Regions from separate parts of the Homo sapiens genome. Here regions 2, 3 and 4 are each linked to region 1. Evidence: fine-mapped expression QTL. A gene starts in region 1. Each other region holds a variant in brackets. All regions are shown on one strand. Distances are from middle to middle.

Region 1 (5,466 bases):
TGTGACCAGCTACAGAAACGAGGACTGTAATTGTCATGAGTATTTCCTCCTTTTGTTAAAAACATGTTTGTGCATATATAAGCTTGTACTAAGAATATTTCATTTCCTTTTTCCTTTATTGTGTGAATAACTTATATTGACTTCATATAAGCATCTAAGTGTTAGTTTTATATAAGGGCATTTGGGTTCAGGATTGGTGCATTTCCAGTTGTATGAAGAATACTTTTATTATTATCTTAGGCACAATTATGACCTTATTATTATCTTTATTTGAAGATTATGTATAATTTCAGAAGATGTGTATGGGTTAAAGTTGACAAGGGGTGAACTTGTGATGGTTAATATTGACTGTCAACTCTATTGGACTGAAGGATGCAAAGTATTGTTCCTGGGTGTGTATGTGAGGGTGTTGCCAAAGGAGATTAACATTTGAGTCAGGGGGCTGGGAAAGGCAGACCCGCCCTTAAACTAGGTGGGCACAATCTAATCAGCTGCCAGTGTGGCAAAAATAAAAATGAGGCAGAGGAACATAAAGAGGTGAGACTGGCTTAGCCTCCGAGCCTACATCTTTCTCCCATGCTGGATGGTTCCTGCCCTAGAACATCGGACTCCAAGTTCTTCAGGTTTGGGACTCAGAATGGCTTCCTTGCTCCTCAGCTTGCAGACAGCCTATTGTGGAACCTTGTGATCCTGTGAGTTAATACCCCTTAAGAAACTCCCTTATATATATACATCTATCCTAACAGTTCTGCTCCTTTAGAGAACTGTGACTAATACGAAGGGTGACAATAGAGGAATTTATATGCTAGACTTTTATACTTTACCTCAATTTTCATTACCTTTTGAAGAAAAAATGTTTCACATAATAATCACATAACAATAATTTATTCAAATTTATTAAGGCAGGAGCTGGGCCTAAAGAGGGTGCTGAGAGGCAGGAGCTGGGCCTGGAGAGGTCAACTGAAGGAAATTTTTGGCCTAAGGAGGCTGCCAGGAAGCAGGAGCTGGGCAAAAACAGGTTGTTGTTAGGCAGGATTTGGGCTCATAGAGGCAGCCAGGAGGCAGGAACTGGATCTTTATAAAAGGGGCAACGTAAGGCAGGAGCAGGGCCTGCAGAGTCTACCAGGAAGCAGGACCAGGGCACAAGAGGCTGACATGAGGCAGAAAGTTGCCCTTGGGAGGCCACTGTGAGGCAGGACTCTTGAAAGGACGCAAAGCTGGGCCTGTAGTGGCTGCTAAAAGGCAGGAACGTGGTCTGGAAGGCCCTGGTGAGGAAAGAGTTGGGCCAAAAGAGGCCACTAGGAGGCAGGAGCTGGGCCTCAGGAGGCTGCCATAAAACAGGAGCTGGGACTCGGAAGGCAGACATGAAGCAAAAGCTGGCCTTTGGAAGGCTGATGAAAGGGAGAAGCCGGGCCTGGTGAGGTTGACTTGAGAAAGTTTGGGGCCTGGAGAGATCCATGGGAGGCAGGAGCCAAACTTGTAGACGCTACTGGAAGGCAGGAGGTGGGCCTGGTGAGGTAAACATGAGGAAGTTCTAGGCCTGGAGAGACAAGTCGGAGAAAGGAGCTGGGGGTAAAGAGGCTGTTGTAAGGCTTGAGATAGGCCTGCAGAGGCGGCCTGGAGGCAGGAGCTGGGCCTGGAGATGCCAAATTGAGGAAGTTTTAGGCCTGCAGAGGCCGTGAAGAGAAAGGAGCTAAGCCTGGAGAGACCGATGAAAGGCAGAAGCTGGGGCTAGAGAGGCCATTGGCAGGCAAAAGCTGGGGCTAGAGAGGCCATTGGCAGGCAAAAGCTCGGCCTCTGGAGGCCGCAAGGAGACAGGAGCCGGGCCTGGTGAGGTTGACTTAAGGATGTTTTGGTCCTGGAGAGGCCGGGCCTAAAGAGGCTGTTGAAAGGATGATGCCAGGCCTGTAGAGGCCAACAGAAGGCAGGAGCTGGGCCTGAGAAGCCCAAATTAAGAAAGTTTTAGGCCTGTAAGTTCCCTAAAGAGGCAGGAGCTAGGCATGCATGGAGAGGCTGCTGTGAGGCAGAAGCTGGGCCACTAGAGGTTGCCAAGAGGCAGGAGAATGGCTTGAAGATGTAGCAGTGAAAATGAGCTGAGTCTAAAGAGGTCATTGTTAGGCAGAAGCTGAGATCCTAGAGGACACTCAGAGGTACAAGTTGGGCCTGGAGAGGTCGACTGGAAAAAATTATTGACTTAAAAAGAGCACCAAGGCAGTAGCTGGGCCTGGAGTGGACACAGGAAGGCAGAAGGTGGGACCTGGGAGGCCGCCATTAAACAGGAGCTGAGTTTATGAGGCAAAAGCTGGGCCTTAAAAGGCTGACCAGATGCAGAAGCTAGGCCTGGTGACGATGACGTGAGAAAGTTCTGGGCCTGAAGGGACAATGCAAACGCAAGAGCTGGGCCTAAATAAGCCATTCGAAAAATGGAGTTCGGCCTCAAGAAACTGCAGAAAAGCAAAAGCTGGGCTTGGAGATGCTGCAACGAGGCAGGCACAAAAATGGTCTAGCAACTGGAAACAGCTCTGGGCCTGGAGAGGATGCCGGGAGGCGAGAGCCGGGTCTGGAGAGAGGCCGCCCACAGGCAGGAGCTGGGCCTGAGGCGGCCAAGCCGAGGCACGAGCTGGGCCCGGAGGGGCCACTGTGGGGCAGAGGCCGTGCCCCCAGGGGCCTACGCCAGGCAGGAGCTGGGCCTGGCGAGGCCGACTTCGGGCCGCCTCGGGTGGGCCCGCACAGGCCATCAGCGGGAGGCAGGAGCTGGGCCCAGAGGGGCCGACGTTGAGGAAGGGAGCCTTGGGCTGGGAGACGCCGTCGGGCTGGGCGGGAGCCGGGCCTGGAGAGGCCGCCGCGAGGCACGAGCTGGGCCTGGAGGGGCCCGCGTGAGGCAGGAGCCGGGCTCGTGGAGGCTGCCGGGAAGCCGGCACGAGCATGGCCGGGGAAGGCCGCCACGAGGCAGGAGGCAGGCCTGGAGAGCTGGACCGGAGGAGGCTTCGGGTCTACGGAGGCCGCTGGGAGCTGGGCAGGAGCCGAGTCACAGGAGGATGTTCAGAGGCAGGAGCTGGGCCCGCGGGCGCAGCCACGAGCAAGGAGCTGGGCCCGGAGAGGAGGCCGGGAGGCGGCCACTGGGCTGGCAGAGGCCGACTTGAGGAAGTCCTGGGCCTGGAGAGGCTGCCAGAAGGGCAAAGGTGGGCCTCAGGAGGCCGCGGCGAGGCACGAGCCGGGCCTAAAGAGGCCATTGGGACGCAGGAGTCAGGCCCGCGGAGGCCACCGAAAGGCAGGAGTGTGGCCTGGTGCAGGCCGTGGTGAGGCACGAGATGAGCCTAAAGATGCCATCGGGAGGCAGGAGCCGGGATTGTCGGGGCTGCCGCGAGGCAGGCGGAAACGTGGCCCAGGGAGGCCAACGTGAGGCAAGAGCTGGGCCTGGAGAGGCCGCTGTCAGGCAGGAGCTGGGCCTCTCCATGCCACCGGGGAGCCAAAGGCAGGGCCTGAAAGGCCTGACTTAGAGGATCCTGGGGTTTACAAAGGCTGCCAGGAGCTGGGCAGGAGCTGGGCCGAACGTGGCTTTTGCGAGGTAGGAGCTGGGCCGGCAGGCACAGCTGAGAGGGAGAGTTGGGCCTGGAGAGGCCGGCTGGAAACAGTACTGGGCCTGGAGAGGATGGTGAGAGGCAAGAGCTTGGCCCATGGAGGCTGCCAACAGGCAGGGCAGGAGCTTCGGCTGATGTGGCCACGCTGAGGCAACAGCTGGGACTGGGGGGTTCCACTTTTAGAAGGCAGAGGCCGTGCTTCTAGGGGCCTATGACAGGCAGGAGCTAGGCCCGGCGAGGCCGACTTCAGGATACTTTGGGTCTGCACAGGCCATCAGCGGAGGGCAGGAATTGGGCCCTGGATGGGCCAACTTGAGAAAGCCTTGGGCCGGTCGGGGTGGGCGGGAGCTGGGCCTTGAGAGACCACCGTCAGGCGTGAGCTGGGCCTAGAGACCCCAGTGTGAGGCAGGCGCCGGGCTTTTTGAGGCCGCCGAGAGGCTGGCAGGAATACAGCCGGGGAAGGCCGCCGTGAGGCAAGAGCTGGGCCTGGGAAGGCCGCTGCGAGGCCACAGGTGGGCCTGAAGAGCTGTGCTGGAGGAGGTTTCGGGCCTACAAAGGCCGCCAGGAGCTGGGCACGAACCGAGTCAAAAGCGGCTGTCTGCAGGCAGGGGCTGGGCCTGGAGGTACAGCCGCGAGAGTGTGCTGGGCCTGGAGAGTAGGCCGGGAGACAGCCACCAGGACAGGGGAGGCTTGCCAATTTGGGCCTGGAGAGGCCGCCACGAAGGAAAAGCTGGGCCTTTGAAAGAGGCCATTGTGAGGGACGAGCCGGGCCTAAAGAGGCCGTCAGGACGCAGGAGCCGGACCTGCGGAAGCCGCCGAAAGGCAGGAGCCTGGCCTGGGGGAGGCTGCAGTGAGGCATGAGATGAGCCTAAAGAGGCCATCAGGAGGCAGGAGCTGGGTCTTTCGGGGCTGCCGCGAGGCAGGGGGAAATGTGTCCCGGGGAGGCCGACGCGAGACAAGAGCTGGGCCCGGAGAGGCCGCTGTCAGGCAGGAGCTGGGCCTCTCCAGGCCGCCAGGGAGCTGAAGGCAGGGCCTGGAAGGCCTGACTTAGAGGAGCCTGGGGCCTACAAATGCTGCCATGAGCTGGGCAGGAGTTGGGCCGAACGTGCCTGTTGCGAGGCAGGAGCTGGGCCGGCAGCCACAGCCGGGAGGGAGAGCTGGGCCTGGAGAGGCCGGCTGGAAACAGTTCTGGACCTGGAGAGGATGGCGAGAGGCAAGAGCTGGGCCTGTGGAGGCTGCCAACAGGCAAGGCAGGAGCTTGGCCTGAGGTGGCCATGCTGAAGCAAGAGCTGGGTCTGGGGGGGTCCACTGTGAGGAGGCAGAGGCCATGCCTCTAGGCGCCTACGACAGGCAGGAGCTGGGCCTGGCGAGGCCGACTTCAGGACGCTTTGGGCCCACACGGGCCATCGGCGGGAGGCAGGAACTTGGCCTGGAAGGGCCATCTTGAGAACGCCTTGAGCCGCGAGACGCTGTTGGGGTGGGCGGGAGCTGGGCCTGGAGACGCCACTGTGACGCCTGAGCTGGGCCTAGAGAGGCCAGTGTGAGGCGGGAGCTGGGCTTGTTGAGGCTACCGCGAGGCCGGCTAGAAAATGGCCGGGGAAGGCCGCTGTGAGGCAAAAGCTGGGCCTGGGAAGGCCGCTGTGAGGGGAGACTGGGTATGGAGTGCTGGACTGGAAGAGATTTCAGGCCTACAAAGGCTGCCAGGAGCTGGGTAGGAGCCGAGTCAAAAGAGGCTCTTTGGAGGCAGGAGCTGGGCCTGTAGACACAGCTGCGAGAGAGGACTGGGACTGGAGAAGAGGCCGGGAGGCAGCAACTGCGGTGGGGGAGGCCGACTTGAGGAATTTCTCGGCCTGGAGAGGCCACCAAAAGGGAAAAGCTGGGCCTA
Region 2 (5,466 bases), 120 kb after region 1:
TGCAACCTTGGCCTCCCAGGTTCAAGTGATTCTCCTGCCTCAGCCTCCCTAGTAGCTGGGATTACAGGCACCCGCCACCACGCCCAGCTAATTTTTTGTATTTTTAGTAGAGACGGGATTTCACTATGTTGGCCAGGTGATCCACCCGCATTGGCTTCCCAAAGTGCTAGGATTACAAGCGTGAGCCACTGTGCCCAGCTCAGTATCAGATTTTTATAGGACTGGCTAGAAAAATAACAATGAAACAAGCAAAAGGTGTTATGTTGTGCTTAACTGCTTCCTTAGAAAGAAGAGCTTATCAGAATGACTATTAAGAAGTCTTTTAGAAACTGAATTGATTGCCATGAATGGAGTATTAAGGGACTAATACAAATTAAAAAAATAAAAATAACTGAATTGAGAAACCCAAAAAATGAGGGGTGTTTTGTTTTGTTTTGTTTTTTGTTTTTTTTTGAGATGGAGTCTTGCTCTGTTGCCCAGGCTGGAGTGCAGTGGCATGATCTCAGCTCACTGCAACCCCACCTTTTGGGTTCAAGTGATTCTTCTCCCTCAGCCTCCCGAGTAGCTGGGACTACAGGCGAGCGCCACCATGCCCAGCTAATTTTTGTATTTTTAGTAGAGACAGGGTTTCACCATATTGGCCAGGCTGGTCTCGAAATCCTGACCTCGTGATCCACCCACCTCAGCCTCCCAAAGTGCTGGGATTACAGGTGTGAGCAACCTCGCCCAGCCCCAAGTTTATTAAAAAGCACTACTGCAATACCCAACAAATTAAAGGGTAGGTACTTTGAGGAAGTAGAGCCTGCCCCCTTTAAAAGCAGGACAAGCTACACTTTCAGAATAGGGAAAAAATGTATCTGAGGGATTTATTAACACTTAGCAAGGGCAGGATTTAAATAGTTTGAGCAGCAAAAGAGTTTTTCCAGAAGTTTTATTTACTTTTATTTAATTGCAGTCTAAACATGTGTCTTACAGTGAGCGTTTTCATATAAATAATTTACAGAAAAAAGTTATTTACAAAGCCACAGATCTCATTCAGTTAGGTAATATGGTTTTCTAGTTATTATGGGAAAGGTTAACACTTGATTGGGTCTATACAGTGCCTTAAAATTGCCCTCACCACATGAAGCTCTGTCCAGATGACAAAGAGAATGTATACCTCTTCATAAGTGACTATATATACTCCTGAATCCATAATCACTCTCAGACCTGTGTGAAGCTTGGTTAAGGTGAGATTCTTAAATTCAAGTTAGGCCAGGTATTGTGGCTCAATCCTGTAATCCCGGCACATTGGGAGGCCAAGGTGGGCGGATCATGTGAGGCTAGGAGTTCATGACCAGCCTGGCTAACAGAGTAACACCCCATCTCTACTAAACATACAAAAAATTAGCTCGGCATGGTGGTGCACACCTGTAATCTCAGCTATGCGGGAGGCTGGGGCATAAAAATTGCTTGAACCTGGGAGGCAGAGGTTGGGGTGAGCCGAAATCACGCCACTGCACTACAGCCTGGGCAACAGAGCAAGACTCTATCTTAAAAAAAAAAAAAAAAAAAAAAAAATCAGGCCAGGCATGGTGGCTCACTTCTGTAACCCCAAGATTTTGGGAGGCCAAGGCGGGCAGACCACTTGAGGTCAGGAGTTCAAGACTAGCTTGGCCAACATAGTGAAATCCTGTGTCTACAAAAAAAAAAAAAAGTAAAAATTATCTGGGCATGGTGGCACATGCATGTAATCCCAGCTACTCGAGAGGCTGAGGGAGGACGATCACTGGAACCTGGAAGGTAAAGGCTGCAATGAGCAGAGATCACACCACTGCACTCCAGCCTGGCCAACAGAGCAAGACTCCTATCTCAAAAAGAAATAATAATAATTCAAGTTATGTTGTACAGATTAGGTTTTAAAAATTAAGCTTTATTAATTTGGCTCAGCAATTTAAATTCTTGCTATGATGATTTGTAAGAACAGAAAAGTAGCTGATGGCAACTATATTTTCAACATAAAAGGATTTTGTGTTAATGACATAGCTGCCCGTCTCATTTGCAATGGAAATATCTTGTTTTAAAGAATGTATAGAAGTACTGTAAGAGTATACATGTTTTAACATTAAGTGGCTAGTAAGACTAGCAAGAAAGAAAAAAGAGCAAAATAAACAAGCTTCAGAAAAATATTAGCAAACAACATTTGCTGAATAGCACTGGGCGCGGTGGCTCACACCTATAATCCCAGCTCTTTGGGAGGCCAAGTTGGGAAGATCACCTGAGGTCAGGAATTCAAGACCAGCCTGGGCAACATAGGGAAACCCTGTCTCTACAAAAAATAAAAAACTCAGCCAGACATGGTGGTGTGTGCCACTAGTCCCAGCTACTCAGGAGACTAAGGCAGGAGGATCACTTGAGTCTGGGAGGTCAAGTCTGCAGTGAGCAGCAACTGCGCTATTGTGCTCCAGTCCAGGAGATAGAGCAACACACTGCTTCAAAAAAAGAAAGAAAAGGAAAGGAAAGGAAAGAAAGAGAAGTGTGTTGCATAGTAAAGCATTATACTGCCATACTGCAGTGGGTATGAAAATTACGTAGGTGCTGAAATTTAAATTCTAAAAACAAAAAACATCTTAGTGTAGACAAGGTGTTTCTTGATAAAGATAAAATGGCTTAAAAATTTTAATGCAGTTCGGAAAAGATTTAATTTTCTAGACTTGACCCATATGCTGAAAAGGCTGCTCACCACCGGCATATACAGGGCTTGGAGAAAACAGAAATGATGTGGGAAAGATGTGGGCAAGAGCAGATCACTCTCCTGGATCTCAGAAATTTTAGAAAGAATAATACTGTGGGATGCAGTAGGAACAATTATCCATTTATGGCAAGGCTGACTGGGCAGTTTTTAAACAGGTAAGAATGGATTTTCATATTGCATAGGCCCTTAGGATACCATCTAGAAAGTTTAGTTGGTGGTAATAACATTAATTTAAAGGTTTTGCGCAGTTTTGAAGAACTGAGTACAAAGACTTTTTTTTTTT[C/T]CCCCCCAGATGGAGTCTCGCTCTGTCATCCAGGCTGGAGTGCAGTGGTGCAATCTCCGCTCACTGCAAGCTCCGCCTCCCAGGTTCACGCCATTCTCCTGCCTCAGCCTCCCAAGTAGCTGGGACTACAGGCGCCTGCCACCACGCCCAGCTAATTTTTTGTATTTTTAGTAGAGACAAGGTTTCACCGTGATAGCCAGGATGGTCTCTATCTCCTGACCTTGTGATCCGCCTGCCTCGGCCTCCCAAAATGTTGGGATTACAGGCGTGAGCCACCGCACCCGGCCACAAAGGCTATTTTATACTACCACATTCTTCACAACTTCAGAGGAACTGCCCCAAGAAATTTATATGATTAGTGATCTGAAGCTAGTTATGTTAGTTCAGGTGTAAAGAGTGTTTATTTATTTATTTGAAAGGACATTAACTTGCAGACAAAGGCCAAAAGGGCTTCTCTAGGGACATTCAGTTTAAAAAACATCTCTTTCATATATGGTATGTGCAGACTTCACACTAAAGATACCTGAGATACATGCATAGGACTTGGCCACCTAACCATGAAACACATAGTGTAGAAATGGAAAATAGGTGGCTTAGTGGCTCTTAAAACAGGAGGAATCTGAGGCCATATGCAGGTCTCTGATATAAACTAGTGATGCCTTACAAATAGGCATTGTGATATTTGTACCAGTTAATTACCTCTTTACTTTAGTATACTCATTTAGAAGTCTACTAAATTATTACAGAGTAAGAACACATCACACTTCTGAGCAAAAGAAAAATACCAAATCTGAGTTGAGCAATTTTCTAAAACATATTATACAGCATACATGCTATATGTACTACAGTATACATACACTAACTTAATATAGCTATCCCGTGAACATTTCATGTGGGCTCAAGAAAAAAATAAATACAAAACCTCAGTTTTTAGTTCTGATAAAAATGAAAGATGGTGTCATATGAACTCTGAATTGTTCCATATTAAGGATATCTATCATGTTTCCTAACTTAAAAAAAAAACAATAACAGCTCACTTGTTTTGACTCTAAATGTTTTACTCTAGAGAGAAAAAATACCTAGAGAAAGACAGCTACTTACTTACACAGTCTAATTACATTTCTGAAGGGCGAGAAAGCAAGCTTTTCTCCTTTACAAACTGAATTCAATATCTAAAAATTATTTTGACACAAGTCCACTGCTTATTAGCCTAGTGATTGCTGACCCCAGCTAGAATATAGCTAAACAGTTAAACACCCTGCTGCTTTTCTAATTTCCTTTTTCTTTCTAAGACTTCCTTACTGCATAGAAGGAACTTTCAGAGCTAATTCTGAGTTTAATGGTTATAGAATGTTACAACAGAATTAATCCCTATTTACAAAATGAATTCCTTTACAGGCAGTCTTATTAATTATTGCCACTGAAATTATGGGTAAAAGAAACAGGTGTGGAAATCACAAGTTCTGGTTGACATTGGCAAAATCTAGCTGTGTAACCTTGGACAAGTCACTTATCCTCTTTGGCTCTCAACTTCCTCATCTATAAAATAAAGGGACTGAAACTCCATAGTTGCTAAAGTCCCTTTCATTGTCTAAATTCTATCTGTCCTTTCTCTAACTGAATGAAAAAATTCAAAATCAAAATACAAAAAACAAAACAGAATTCAACAACAACAACCCTTAAAATTACTGCCACTGGCCTAACAATGGTTGCACAGAGTTAAAGGTCTACTATCGCAGTTTATACTATTTACAAGGTCACAAGTCAAAAAGGCCTGTTACTAAAGCACATAATTCAAGTGGCTTCAGGTCAGAATTTCCACACAAAGATGATCCAAACACCACTGAGTTGCAGTGGAAAAGTACTAGCCTAAGAGTTGGGTTTTAGCTTGATTCAGAGGCTTTTCTTAGGTAAGTAATTTAACATCTCTTGGTCTGGATTTTTCTCAGGCATAAAATGACAAGGTTGCACTATATTATCTCTAAGACCTTTCCTCAAACCAAAACTCTATGTTTCTACGTGGTTATTCTCAACCTACCCTTTTGTAATGCATTCCTTCCAAAAACAGCTTGGTCTGTTTATAGATTTCTTGGCCTGTCTTGTGGAAGGTCTTGAGAAATTCTATGAACTCCTTAGACACTCTATCCGTTTCAATGCTGGTTTGCCGGTTTATGGAAGGACTGGGAGCTTTTGCTTCCTGAATTTCTGCTGGGAAAATTAAACATAGTAAGTTTCATGACATAAAAGATCCATGCATGGAATTACTTTAAGTATCTTACCTAAGGTTATTTAAATTATGTTTCATCAAAGTTAAACTTGAATTTAAATAATTTTATGTTTGAATGGTTGGACAACTTTCCTTAAAGTAAACTAAATCTGTTTTACAAGTAGGAAGTATGAGTAGACAAAACTACATTATCTAAAAGATATTCCTACTGAAATAAAAGTT
Region 3 (5,466 bases), 48 kb after region 1:
CAGTAAGACGGCCGGGCATGGCAGCTCACGACTATAATCCCACCACTTCAGTGGGTCGAGGCAGGTGGATCACCTGAGATCAGGAGTTCGAGACTAGCCTGACCAACGTGGTGAAACCCCATCTCTACTAAAAATACAAAAATTAGGCAGGCCTGGTGGCAGCTGCCTGTAATCCCAGCTACTTGGGAGGCTGAGCCAGGGAGAATTGCTCGAACCTGGGAGAAAGAGGTTGCAGTGAGCTGAGATGATGCCAGTGCACTCCAGTGTGGGTGACAGAGCAAGACTCCATCTCAAAAACAAACAAACAAACAAACAAAAAAACAGAAGGTGCCATTTGCTATGGGGAGACTAGGGATATGATCTTGCTGCAATCCTTCCATTTTAGTAAATCTAAAGAGTGTAATTCCATTCTGTTTTGTCCCCACTCCACTCCAGAGCCAAAACTAGTAAGAAAATCAATTCTATTTCTATTTCTTTCAAAACACATCTAACAATAAGAGATGATATGCACAGCTCCATACTATAAAAGAAAAACTTATGTCCTGGGTATCATAGACATTTGATGAATGTTTGTTCAGGTGACTGGTGTAGACTTCAATAATAACCCGTTCAATGCATTATGCCAGATAAAATCTTGCATCTCAAAAGTAGGACAAACATTGTTCTTTTAGTTCTGTCTACCCATAAATGCAATATTTACATGTATTTATAATGGGTTAATAAAAAGAAAATGAGTTTACTGTTCTAGAGAGTATTAGAATTTTGAAAATATGAATTCTCCTGTCCTAGCACATAATTGTTAGAGGCATATTATTTAATATGGAAGGCATCATTAAAAAATGTTAAGCATTAGGTAATTATTGCACATAATCTTTTAATCTGACTTAAGACTGAATGCCTACCTCCTGAAGCTGGTTTGTCAAGCTGTAAATCTTCATGTGTTGAATTCATAAGTTCATGTCTGAAAGGTAAGAATAAATACTTAATATTCACTAGGCAATATTCAGCAAAGTAATATCCACTAGTACATATTTCACATTTAATCACCAAGGGTGGTTTTGAAAAGACAAGGCAGGCTGGGCATGGTGGCTTATGCCTGAAATCCCAACACTTTGGAAGGCAGAGGCAGGCAGATCACGAGGTCAGCAGTTTGAGACAAGCCTGGCCAACATGGTGGCACCCCATCTGTACTAAAATCACAAAACTCAGCTGGGCGTGGTGGTAGGTGCCTGTAATCCCAGCTACTCAGGAGGCTGAGACAGGATAATTGCCCGAACCCAGGAGGTGGAAGTTGCAGTGAGTCGAAATCATGCCACTGCACTCCAGCCTGGGTAATAGAAAGAGACTCCATCTTGGAAAAAAAAAAAATTAAGAAAAGACAATCTGGATGATTGAGCACAACTAAATCTTCATTTGAGGTTTCTACAGAGTAACGAAACAAAATAATATTGTAAATTGTCTCATAAGCTGCTTCATGGAGCATGTGTTCTCACAAGTAAAGTGGTAACTCTGCAACCCACAGGTCTTTGAAGCATATTACAAAAATCTTAAATGGGATCCTTTAATATCACATTGCATTCAAGACTATCTTCCTCTACACAACTAGAAAAACAATCATATATTCCCACATATGCCACAAAAATCTCAGGCCTAAAAACAAGACACGGATACTATTTTCTTTAGCAAAAGTAGCAGAAAACTGTGAAAGAAAATGTCAGTTGCATGCTAGTCAGGTGTGGGCAGTGTTCATGTTTCAAAAGCTAACACTGGCACGACTGACTCAATGTTGGACCCAGATATATTAAAAAGTGGAAGATAAAAATACTTAAAATAGGCCGGGTGCAGTGGCTCACATCTGTAATCCCAGCACATTGGGAGGCTGAGGTAGGTGGATCACCTGAGGTCAGGAGTTTGAGACCTGACCAACATGGAGAAACCCTGTCTCTAGTAAAAATACAAAATTACCTGGGCTTGGTGGGACATGCCTGTAATCCCAGCTACTCAGGAGGCTGAGGCAGAATCACTTGAACCTGGGAGGCAGAGGTTGCAGTGAGCCGAGATCACACCATTGCACTTTAGCCTGGGCAACCAGAGAGAAACTCCATCAAAAAAAAAAAAAACCCCATAATATAAGTCAAACTTAAGTAAATATAACCGTAGTGGTAAATATTTGTCAACAATAAAAAAGATGTATTACTCACAAGAGAGATAAGAGTCAAATAAGAATCCAGGAGTCTTACTTTTTAATCACAAAACAAATCCTTTCCATTGCAAGTAATATCCTCTCAAAGCCAGGAATTCTGTAAGTGGATAGCCTTCCTAAAAAAATTTCTGGTGGGGCAAAGTGGCTCATGCCTGAATCCCAGCAATTTGGGAGGCCAAGGCGGGTGGATGATGAAGTCAGGATTACCAGACAAGCCTGGCTAACATAGTGAAACCCTGTCTTGGCCAGGCACGGTGGCTCACACCTGTAATCCCAGCACTTTGGGAGGCTGAGGCAGGTGGATCACGAGGTCAAGAGATCGAGACCATCCTGGCTAACACGGTGAAACCCCATGTCTACTAAAAGTACAAAAAATTAGCCGGGTGTGGTGGCGGGCGCCTATCGTCCCAGCTACTTGGGAGGCTGAGGCAGGAGAATGGCGTGAACCCGGGAAGCGGAGCTTGCAGTGAGCCGAGATCGTGCCACTGCACTCCAGCCTGGGCAACAGAGCGAGACTCCGTCTCAAAAAAAAGAAACCCCATCTCTACTAAAAATACAAAAAAATTAACCAGGCATGGTGACTTGCGCCTGTAGTCCCAGCTACTCAGGAGACTGAGGCAAGTGAATCACTTGAATCCAAGAGGCGGAGGTTGCAGTGAGCCGAGATTGCTCCACTGCACTCCAGTCTGGGCACAGAGCAAGACTGTGTCTCAAAAACAAAAACAAAAACAACAACAACAAAAATTCCTGGCCTAGCGTAGTGGTTCATGCCTGTAATCCCAGCACTCTGGGAGGCTGAAGCAGGAGGATCACCTGAGTTCAGCAGTTCCAGACCAGCCTGGCCAACATGGTGAAACCCCATCTCTATTAAAAATACAAAATTAGCCTGGTGTAGTGGCGGGCGCCTGTAATCCCAGGTACTCAGGAGACTGAGGCAAGAGAATCGCTTGAACCCAGGAGGCAGAGGCTGCAGTGAGCTGAGATCACAGCATTGTACTGCAGCCTAGATCATGCCATTGCACTCCAGCCTAGGCGACAAGAGTAAAAACTCTGTCACAAAAAAAAAAAAAAAAAAAAAATTCCTGTGGGGAAGGCCTTCTACATAAAGAT[C/T]TTCAGCTTGAGACTGGAAAAAAGGGGTGGACCTTTGGCTTTTACAGCTTGAGCTATAAAGACAAAAAGAAAAAAGCGTATCATTTAAACACAATATGTAGAAAAGAATAATTATTGAATCTGTATTGCTCTTTAATTTTTATAATTTGATCTTTACTTCTGTTACTGTAATTGAGTCCAAAGAAAAATATTATGAGTAAAATAAAAACACCACCAAAAATGCTAATGTTCTGTTCATCAAAGTCTGCAGTGAAATATCCCATTACAGATAAGTGCAGTGACTCACACCTGTAATCCCAGCACTTTGGGAGGCCAAGAAAGGTGAATCAACTGAGGTCAGGAGTTCGAGACCAGACTAGCAAACATGGTGAATCCACGTCTCTACTAAAAATAAAAACGTAGCCAGGCAAGGTGGCAGGCACCTGTAATCCCAGCTACTCAGGAGGCTGAGGCAGGAGAACTGCTTGAACCCAGGAGGCAGAGGCTGCAGTGAGCTGAGATCACAGCATTGTACTCCAGCCTAGGCAACAAGAGCAAAACTCAATCTCAAAAAAAAAACAAACAAAAAAAAAACAGTAAGAGAATTGTGGAGCTGATGGAGCTGAGTCCTACTCATTGTATTTACTTTCCTAAAATAAAACAACATTATAAAAAAACATATGACCAGGCGCAGTGGCTCATGCCTGTAATCCCAACACTTTGGGAGGCCAAGGTGGGAGGCTCACCTAAGGTCAGGAGTTTGAGACCAGCCTGGCCAACATGGTGAAACCCCAACTCTACTACAAATGCAAAAATTACGCAGACCTTTTGGCAGGTGCCTGTGATGCCAGCTACTTGGGAGGCTGAGCCAGGGAGAATTGCCTGAACCTGGGAGATGGATGTTGCAGTGAGCTGAGATCACGCCACTGCACTCCAGTGTGGGTGACAGAGCAAGACTCCATCTCAAAAAAAAAAAGAAAAGAAAACAGCTAGCAGGTGCCATTTGCTATGGGGAGACTAGGGATATGATCTTGCTGCAATCCTTCCATTTTAGTAAATCTTAACAGTGTGATTCCATTCTGTTTTGTCCCCATTTCACTCCAGAGGCAAAACAAGTAAGAAAACCAATTCTATTTCTATTTCTTTCGAAACACATCTAAACAATTAAGAGATGATATGCATGGCTCTATACTCTAAAAGGAAACATTCTTGTGTCCTGGGTATCATGGACATTTCATGAATGCTTGTTCAAGTGACTGGTGTAGACTTCAATAATAACCTGTTCAATGCATTATGCCAGATAAATCTTGCATCTCAAAAGTAGGCCAAATTTTGTTCTTTTAGTTCTGTCTACCCATAAATGCAACATTTACATGTATTTATAATGGGTTAAAAAAAGAAAATGAGTTCACTGTTTTAGAGAGTATTAGAATTTTAACAAATGAGGCCGGGCGGGGTAGCTCTGACCTGTAATCCCAGTACTTTGGGAGGCCGAGATGGGTGGATCATCTTAGGTTGGGAGTATGAGACTAGCCTGACAAACATGGAGAAACCCCAACTCTATTAAAAATATCCGGGTGTGGCAGCGCATGCCTGTAATCTCAGCTACTCAGTAAGCTGAGGCAGGAGAATTGCTTGAACCCAGGAGGCAGAGGTTGCATGAGCCTAGATTGTGCCACTGCACTCTAGCCTGGGCAACAAGAGCAAAACTCCGTCTCAAAAAGAAAAAAAAAAATTAAAAAAAAAAAAAGAATTTTGACAACATGAATTCTCCTGTCCTGGAACATAATTAATAGTTACAAGCATATTATTTCATGTGGAAGGTACCATTTTAAAAAAACAATGTCAAGCATTAAATAATTATTGCACATAATCTTTTTTTTTTTTTTTTTTGAGATGGAGTCTCACTCTGTCACCCAGGCTGGAGTGCAGTGGCGGGATCTCGGCTCACTGCAAGCTCCGCCTCCCAGGCTCATGCCATTCTCCTGCCTTAGCCTCCCGAGTAGCTGGGACTACAGGTGCCCACTACGATACCCGTCTAAGTTTTTGTACTTTTAGTAGAGATGGGGTTTCATCCTGTTAGTCAGGATTGTCTCGATCTCCCGACCTCATGATCCACCCACCTCGGCCTCCCAGAGTGCTGGGATCACAGGTGTGAGCCACCACGGCCAGCC
Region 4 (5,466 bases), 240 kb after region 1:
GATTACACTTATTCCTCTCCACACAGATGACAACTTCCTGGTCTCATATTGCGTAGGATAGCCAGGTGTGGTGGCACATGCCTGTAGTCCCAGCTATTCAGGAGGCTGAGGGGAGAAGACTGCTTGAGCCAGGAGTTTAAGGATGCAGTGAGCTATGATGGCACTGGTGAACAGCCACTACATTCCACCCGGGGCAACATAGCAAGACCCTATCTCCAAAAATGCAGCCCCCGAAAAAACAAAAAACACCTAAAAATTAAATACTGTAATACCAGCATTTTGGGAGGCCAAGGTGGGAAGATTGCCCAAGGCCAGGAGCTTGAGACAGTCTGGGCAACACAGCAAGATCCCATCTCTCTATCTCTCTCTCTATATATATATATAAATATAGATATAGATATATATAGATACATAAATAATGAGAGTATCACACACATTAAGTAAGACCAGTGGAAGCTCCAGTGCATCAGAGCACATATGTGTGTGTGTGTGTGTGTGTGTGTGTGTGTATACGTATGTGTATTAAATAAATAAAAATAAAATTTTGTTTTGTTTTTTGAGACGGAATCTTGCTCTATCACCCAGGCTGGAGTGTAGTGGCGCCATCTCGGCTCACTGCAACCTCTGCTTCCCGGGTTCAAGCGATTCTCCTATCTCAGCTTCCTGAGTAGCTGGGATTACAGGCGCGAGCCACCACACCCAGCTAACTTTTGTATTTTTAGTAGAGATGGGGTTTCATCATGCTGTAGTGAGCTGGTCTTGAACCCCTGGCCTCAAGAGATCCACCCGCCTTGGCCTCCCAAAGTGCTTGGATTACAGGTGTGAGCCACCGCGCCCAGCTAAAAATAAAAATTGTTTAAATATCTATCACTGAAGCAATTTCATCCAGCCAGTGTGTGTTATTTGGAATTTCTCTGGCTGTCTTTGTGTCCTCTAGCCAAAAAAAAAAAAAAAAAAAAAAAAAAAAAAATCATCTCATTCAATAAGCCCATTTATTAAATTCCATCAATATGTCATCTCCTCTTCTAGGTACTATGTCACCCAGCCTGGGTGACAGCATGAGACTCCATCTCAAACAAAAAAGTTTAAGTAAGCTCCCAGCTGAGACCTAAAGTATGAGAAGGGACCAGTGGGGAAAGAATTGCAGGGAAGAGCATCCAGGCAAAGGGAACAGCTTATGCAAACACACAGATTCCAGGGGAAAAGAACTAGGGGACAGTGAAATTGGAGGAGGTGAGGCAGCACCAGGTCATGGTGAACCTCAGAGCTATTTGGGGGGTGTCGATTTTGGTGCAAATGCAATAGGAAGCCCTTGGGGAAAGGGGCGGTTTAAGAAGGAGAATGAGATGGGGCCTGATTTACATTTTCTGCAAGTTATTCTGGCTGTTGGGGGTAGAGAGGAGGCAGGGAGGCGGGAAGGAGGCTGTGCTGGCCTCCAGGGCCAAGCTGGTGATGGCTTGACACAGGGGTGGCAACGAGAACAGAGGGAAGTGGGGTAGGGATTTATTTTGGAGGTAGAATTGAAGAGTCTTGGTGGTGGCCCGGGTGTGGGTGGTGAGGGTGAGATGATCCAAAGATGCCTCCCTGTTTTCTGGCCGGAGCCACCAGGTAGATGATGATGGTGCCATTTCCCGAGACGGGGAAGTCACAGGAGGGGCAGGCTGGGGAAGGAACCAAGAGTTGACTTTTGGACGCATTATGTTCAAGCTGTTATTTGTCCTGCCTGGCTAATGACTGACAGAGCTCTGTGGGCCTCATTGAGATAATGCTTATAAAGGTTTCATGCCAAAGCTACTGAAAAGCAAGTGTGAAATTTGTTTTTATTATTATTTAGTATTGCCTGATCTCCTACCCAAGCCCACCATAAAGGTCTGATTATGAAATCCACAAGCCAGAGGTCCCCACCACCTTCTTGTCTTTTGCTGCCTCCCTGCCACCCATCCCACAGCAACCTTAACAAAGCTCTGATGGTGGGATTCCAGGCATCGTCAACCAATGGCAAGGGAGGGGGCGCTGAGTTACCCCATATTGGCGCCTGGCAGCCTCTGGGGGCTGTGGGGTGGGCAGGGCTGGCCTCCTCTGGTGACTGGGGAGGGAGCTGGCAGAAGGCCGGGGAAGGGGGACAATGGGCCTTTGTCTTTGCCGAGGTTTCTCCATCCAAGATGCTCTAGCTCCTAGAAAAACATGACCTCATTCGTCCTCCAGGCTCCAGGACCCAGGGCAGAGACAGGCTTGGAGTTGGATGCACCCACCGCATTTCACAGACTGGAAAACCAAGTCACACAAGGAAAGAAGACAAGAGGACACCAAGGCTCCAGCCCTAAGACCCAGCCAGAAGTCATGCCCTCCCGGGTTGCTGAGCCCAGGGAGGGGACTCACAAGAGGGTCTTCTAGGCAGCAAAGGTCTAGCTAGCCCGCAAGCTCCTGGGACAGGCAGGTTGCACTTGGATCTGCTACTCACAGCTGTGTGGCTCTAAGCAGATTACTCACCTACTCTGCGCCCTGGTTTCTGCATCTGATGCAAGACTGGCAGCCTCTTTCTTGCAAGGTTAGAGTGCCCCTGGAGATCGCTGCTAAGAATTCAGAAAGGCCTGCTTCCCGCCATGGCATCTGCGCCCACTGCTCTGCCTAAGAGGTGATCTTCCAGGGAAGAAAGTGGGGATTAAGGCCCATCCCACGCAAGCCTCCAGGGTCCACAAATGTCCCTCTCTTGCCAGGGGCTCTGCAGTGACAAGGCCTGGCAGGAGTCTGGCATATCTTTCTGGTAGCTTCCTAAGTGACGTTCTCCCACACTGGCCCTGCTGGGCTTTCACCCCCGGCCCACAATAGCCCTCACTTCCTATGCCAATCCCCCCCTCTCCAGAGGGTCTTCTCCAACCTGGTCTCCATCTCCACAACCATCTGGGGACACCCCTGCACCTGAAACCTCAGCAATTCAAGTTGCAAGATGCCAGCTGGAGGGACTCCCGGCCATTCTCTCAGTCTCATGTCTAAAATAGGATAGTGGGGCTGGGCATGGTGGCTCACGGCTGTAATCCCAACGCTTTCGGAGGCTGAGGTAGAAGGATGGCTAGAGGCCAGGAGTTCGAGATCAGCCTGGGCAACATAGCCAGACCCCATTTCTAAAAACAAAAAAATTAAACAATTAGCC[G/A]GGCATGGTGGTGTATGGTCCCAGCTACTCGGTAGGCTGAGGCAGGAGGATTACTTGAGTCCAGGAGTTCAAGGTTGCAGTGAGCTATATTTGCACCACTGTACTCCAGCTTGGGTGACAGAGCAAAACCCTGTCTCTAAAAATAAGTAAAATGGGGCCAGGCGCGGTGGCTGACACCTGTAATCCTAGCAATTTGGGAGGCCAAGGCCGGTAGATCACCTGAGGTCAGAAGTTCGAGACCAGCCTTCCCAACATGGTGAAACCCTGTCTCTACTAAAAATACAAAAATCAGCCAGGCGTGGTGGCATGTGCCTATAATTCCAGCTACTAGGGAGGCTGATGCAGGAGAATCACTTGAACCCGGGAGGTAGAGGTTGCAGTGAGCCGAGATTGCACCATTGCACTCCAGCCTGGGCGACAGAGCAAGACTCCATCTCAAACATAAATAAATAAACAAATAAATAAATAAGTAAAATGGGATAATGGAACTTCTTGGGGACGTGGGAGCATTCGGTGAGAGGAGACTCCAGGGACCTGCACAGGGCTGGACACAGAGTAGATGCTTATGAAATGACAGGCTTATTAATACCAATTTTTCATCCCTTTCAAAGGTCATTCAGAACAACCTCCCAAGTCACTTACAGAAAGTAAAACCAGAGAGGGTTAGTTGTCAGTCGTCGTCACACAGCCTGTCAGTGTCAGGGCTCGGTGCAGACCCGGCCTCTGCATGCTGCCTTGGGGGTTCTCAGGCCGGGCCATGATCCTCAGCCCAGGGACCAGGTGAGGGAGGAGGGTGAGTGAGGCTGGAGATGGCCCAGGCTCTGGACTTTCCCTTGGCCCCATCTTCCACCGAGGCTGCATTCCCAGTGAGATAAACAAGGGATCAGCGGGAACAAAATGGATGAAGTAACGGGGAAGATATGAGTGGCTGTGCACAGCCCCCAGCCCACCCCACCTGCCTGCCCACCAACAGGGACTGCTTCAGGAGAGGCATGGCCGGCCCCTGAGTCTCAGCCCGTGCCAGGCACTAAGGGTGCTCAGCACTGGCCAAGCCCTTCCTGATCCCCGGGCTCAGGTGGCAAACCTCCTGTGGTGCCCTTGGACCCTCTCTGGGCCCTGTCCCTATGCTCCACCCTCCCTGGGCTGGGATTATTTCAAATCCCCTCCACCAGAGCCTTGGAGGAGACAATTGCATGCTCCCAAATGCAAATTCAGAGCCCCAGGGCTGTCTGGAGTGGACATATGATTTCCCACCCTGGCTCAACTGGTCTGGGGTTCAGCCTGTGTCTCTGGGGCACCTGCAGTGCCTTGCTGCCTGAGGCCAGCTCCCTACTGTGGTGGAGAGGCTGTGTCTGCCCAAGGCTTCCCCAACCCCAGTGCCAGCTCCCTGCCCCTGCAAATTTCTGCCCATCCTGACCTCTCCAAGGAGCCCTGGAACTCAGGGGACCATCTCCAGGGCCGGATGGGAGGCTGGCACTGCTGCCAAAGCCTGGACGCCCACCCAGCTGGACACTAACCTGGGTACCTTCCCTTGCTGAGACATAGATAAAGAGCAAGGGTGTTGGCCAGACAGGGCTCCACCCGCCGGCTGTGAGCAGCCAGGACCTGCAGCCTTGGGCCAGGGACCCCAGAGGCTCAACATCTGCCCCTACTTGCCTCAGAAGGAGGCAAGAAACGAGCCCTCTCCCTGCCAGGAAACATCACTGGAGTGCCCACCAATACCCTGAGCTGGGAGCCTGGCACAGAGGGGGTGTGCGGTGGGCACCCTAGGGCCCGCCTGGCTCACTTCGGCCTCAGTTGCCCTCAGCAAACAGTCCCCAAACTGCACCAGGCCCTGACTAGGCTAAGAGGGGGCTGTCTCTCTTCCCTCCCAGGTTTTTTGCAACCAACAGAGCTGGGATGGTGGAGCCCCAGGCCCTGGAATCTGCATTTTGGGACTCCTCGGGTGATATGAAGGCAGGTGGTCTCTAAGCACAACTGGAGAGACTCCACTGTGGTCCCTTCCCCATTTCCCCGTCCCCTCCCCGGCTTCAGAGGGCCCTGTCCCTACCTGCAGAGGAGGCTCCTTCATCCCAGCTTCCCGGGTACTCCGGTCCCCACTTTGCCGGCTGACATTCTGCCCCCCACGCCCCAGGCATCCTGTTATGACCATGGAGAACCACATAGGTTTCCCCAGCACACAACCACCTTCCCTCTTCAATAGCTGCTTCCTCTGTCGGAAATGCTTGTTCCGTGGTCTTTCCACCCAAAATATTCCCACTCAGCCTCGCAGGCCAGCTCCTATGTCACCTCCAAGAAGCCTTCCTTGACCTCCA

Which allele goes with the higher level. Positions count from the first base shown, and alleles are read on the strand shown. Sizes are in standard deviations (SD) of each study's normalised expression. Not every link is listed here.
For the expression in naive CD4 T cells of the gene that starts at base 3,047 in region 1, allele T in region 2 goes with a lower level than allele C (large effect, 1.0 SD a copy in Schmiedel 2018).

Evidence for each region. PIP is the estimated chance that this variant, and not a neighbour inherited with it, causes the effect.
Region 2: its variant is the best candidate, but not a certain one, in a credible set for the expression of LINC02604 in naive CD4 T cells (Schmiedel 2018, PIP 0.76).
Region 3: its variant is the best candidate, but not a certain one, in a credible set for the expression of LINC02604 in gastroesophageal junction (GTEx, PIP 0.76).
Region 4: its variant is the best candidate, but not a certain one, in a credible set for the expression of LINC02604 in prostate (GTEx, PIP 0.51).

Annotation. Positions count from the first base shown.
Region 1 is chr7:66,901,701-66,907,166 of GRCh38, reverse strand. It overlaps LINC02604 (long intergenic non-protein coding RNA 2604), which reads right to left and starts at 3,047. Exons shown (of 1, transcript NR_136637.1): 1 at 870-3,047.
Region 2 is chr7:66,783,431-66,788,896 of GRCh38, reverse strand. RABGEF1 (RAB guanine nucleotide exchange factor 1) reads right to left here. Exons shown (of 9, transcript NM_014504.3): 4 at 5,056-5,222. Among named protein-coding and RNA genes, the nearest start is that of RABGEF1, 45 kb to the right of the region's middle. The variant C/T (reference allele first, on the strand shown) is at 3,018.
Region 3 is chr7:66,853,572-66,859,037 of GRCh38, reverse strand. It overlaps the pseudogene GTF2IP23. Among named protein-coding and RNA genes, the nearest start is that of LINC02604, 48 kb to the left of the region's middle. The variant C/T (reference allele first, on the strand shown) is at 3,314.
Region 4 is chr7:66,665,938-66,671,403 of GRCh38, reverse strand. It overlaps LOC100996437 (a long non-coding RNA gene), which reads right to left. Exons shown (of 4, transcript NR_110037.1): 2 at 3,794-4,006; 3 at 2,491-2,640; 4 at 1,802-2,174. It also overlaps a transcript of RABGEF1 not described here. Among named protein-coding and RNA genes, the nearest start is that of KCTD7, 40 kb to the right of the region's middle. RefSeq lists enhancers at 3,828-4,567, 4,568-5,308. The variant G/A (reference allele first, on the strand shown) is at 3,152.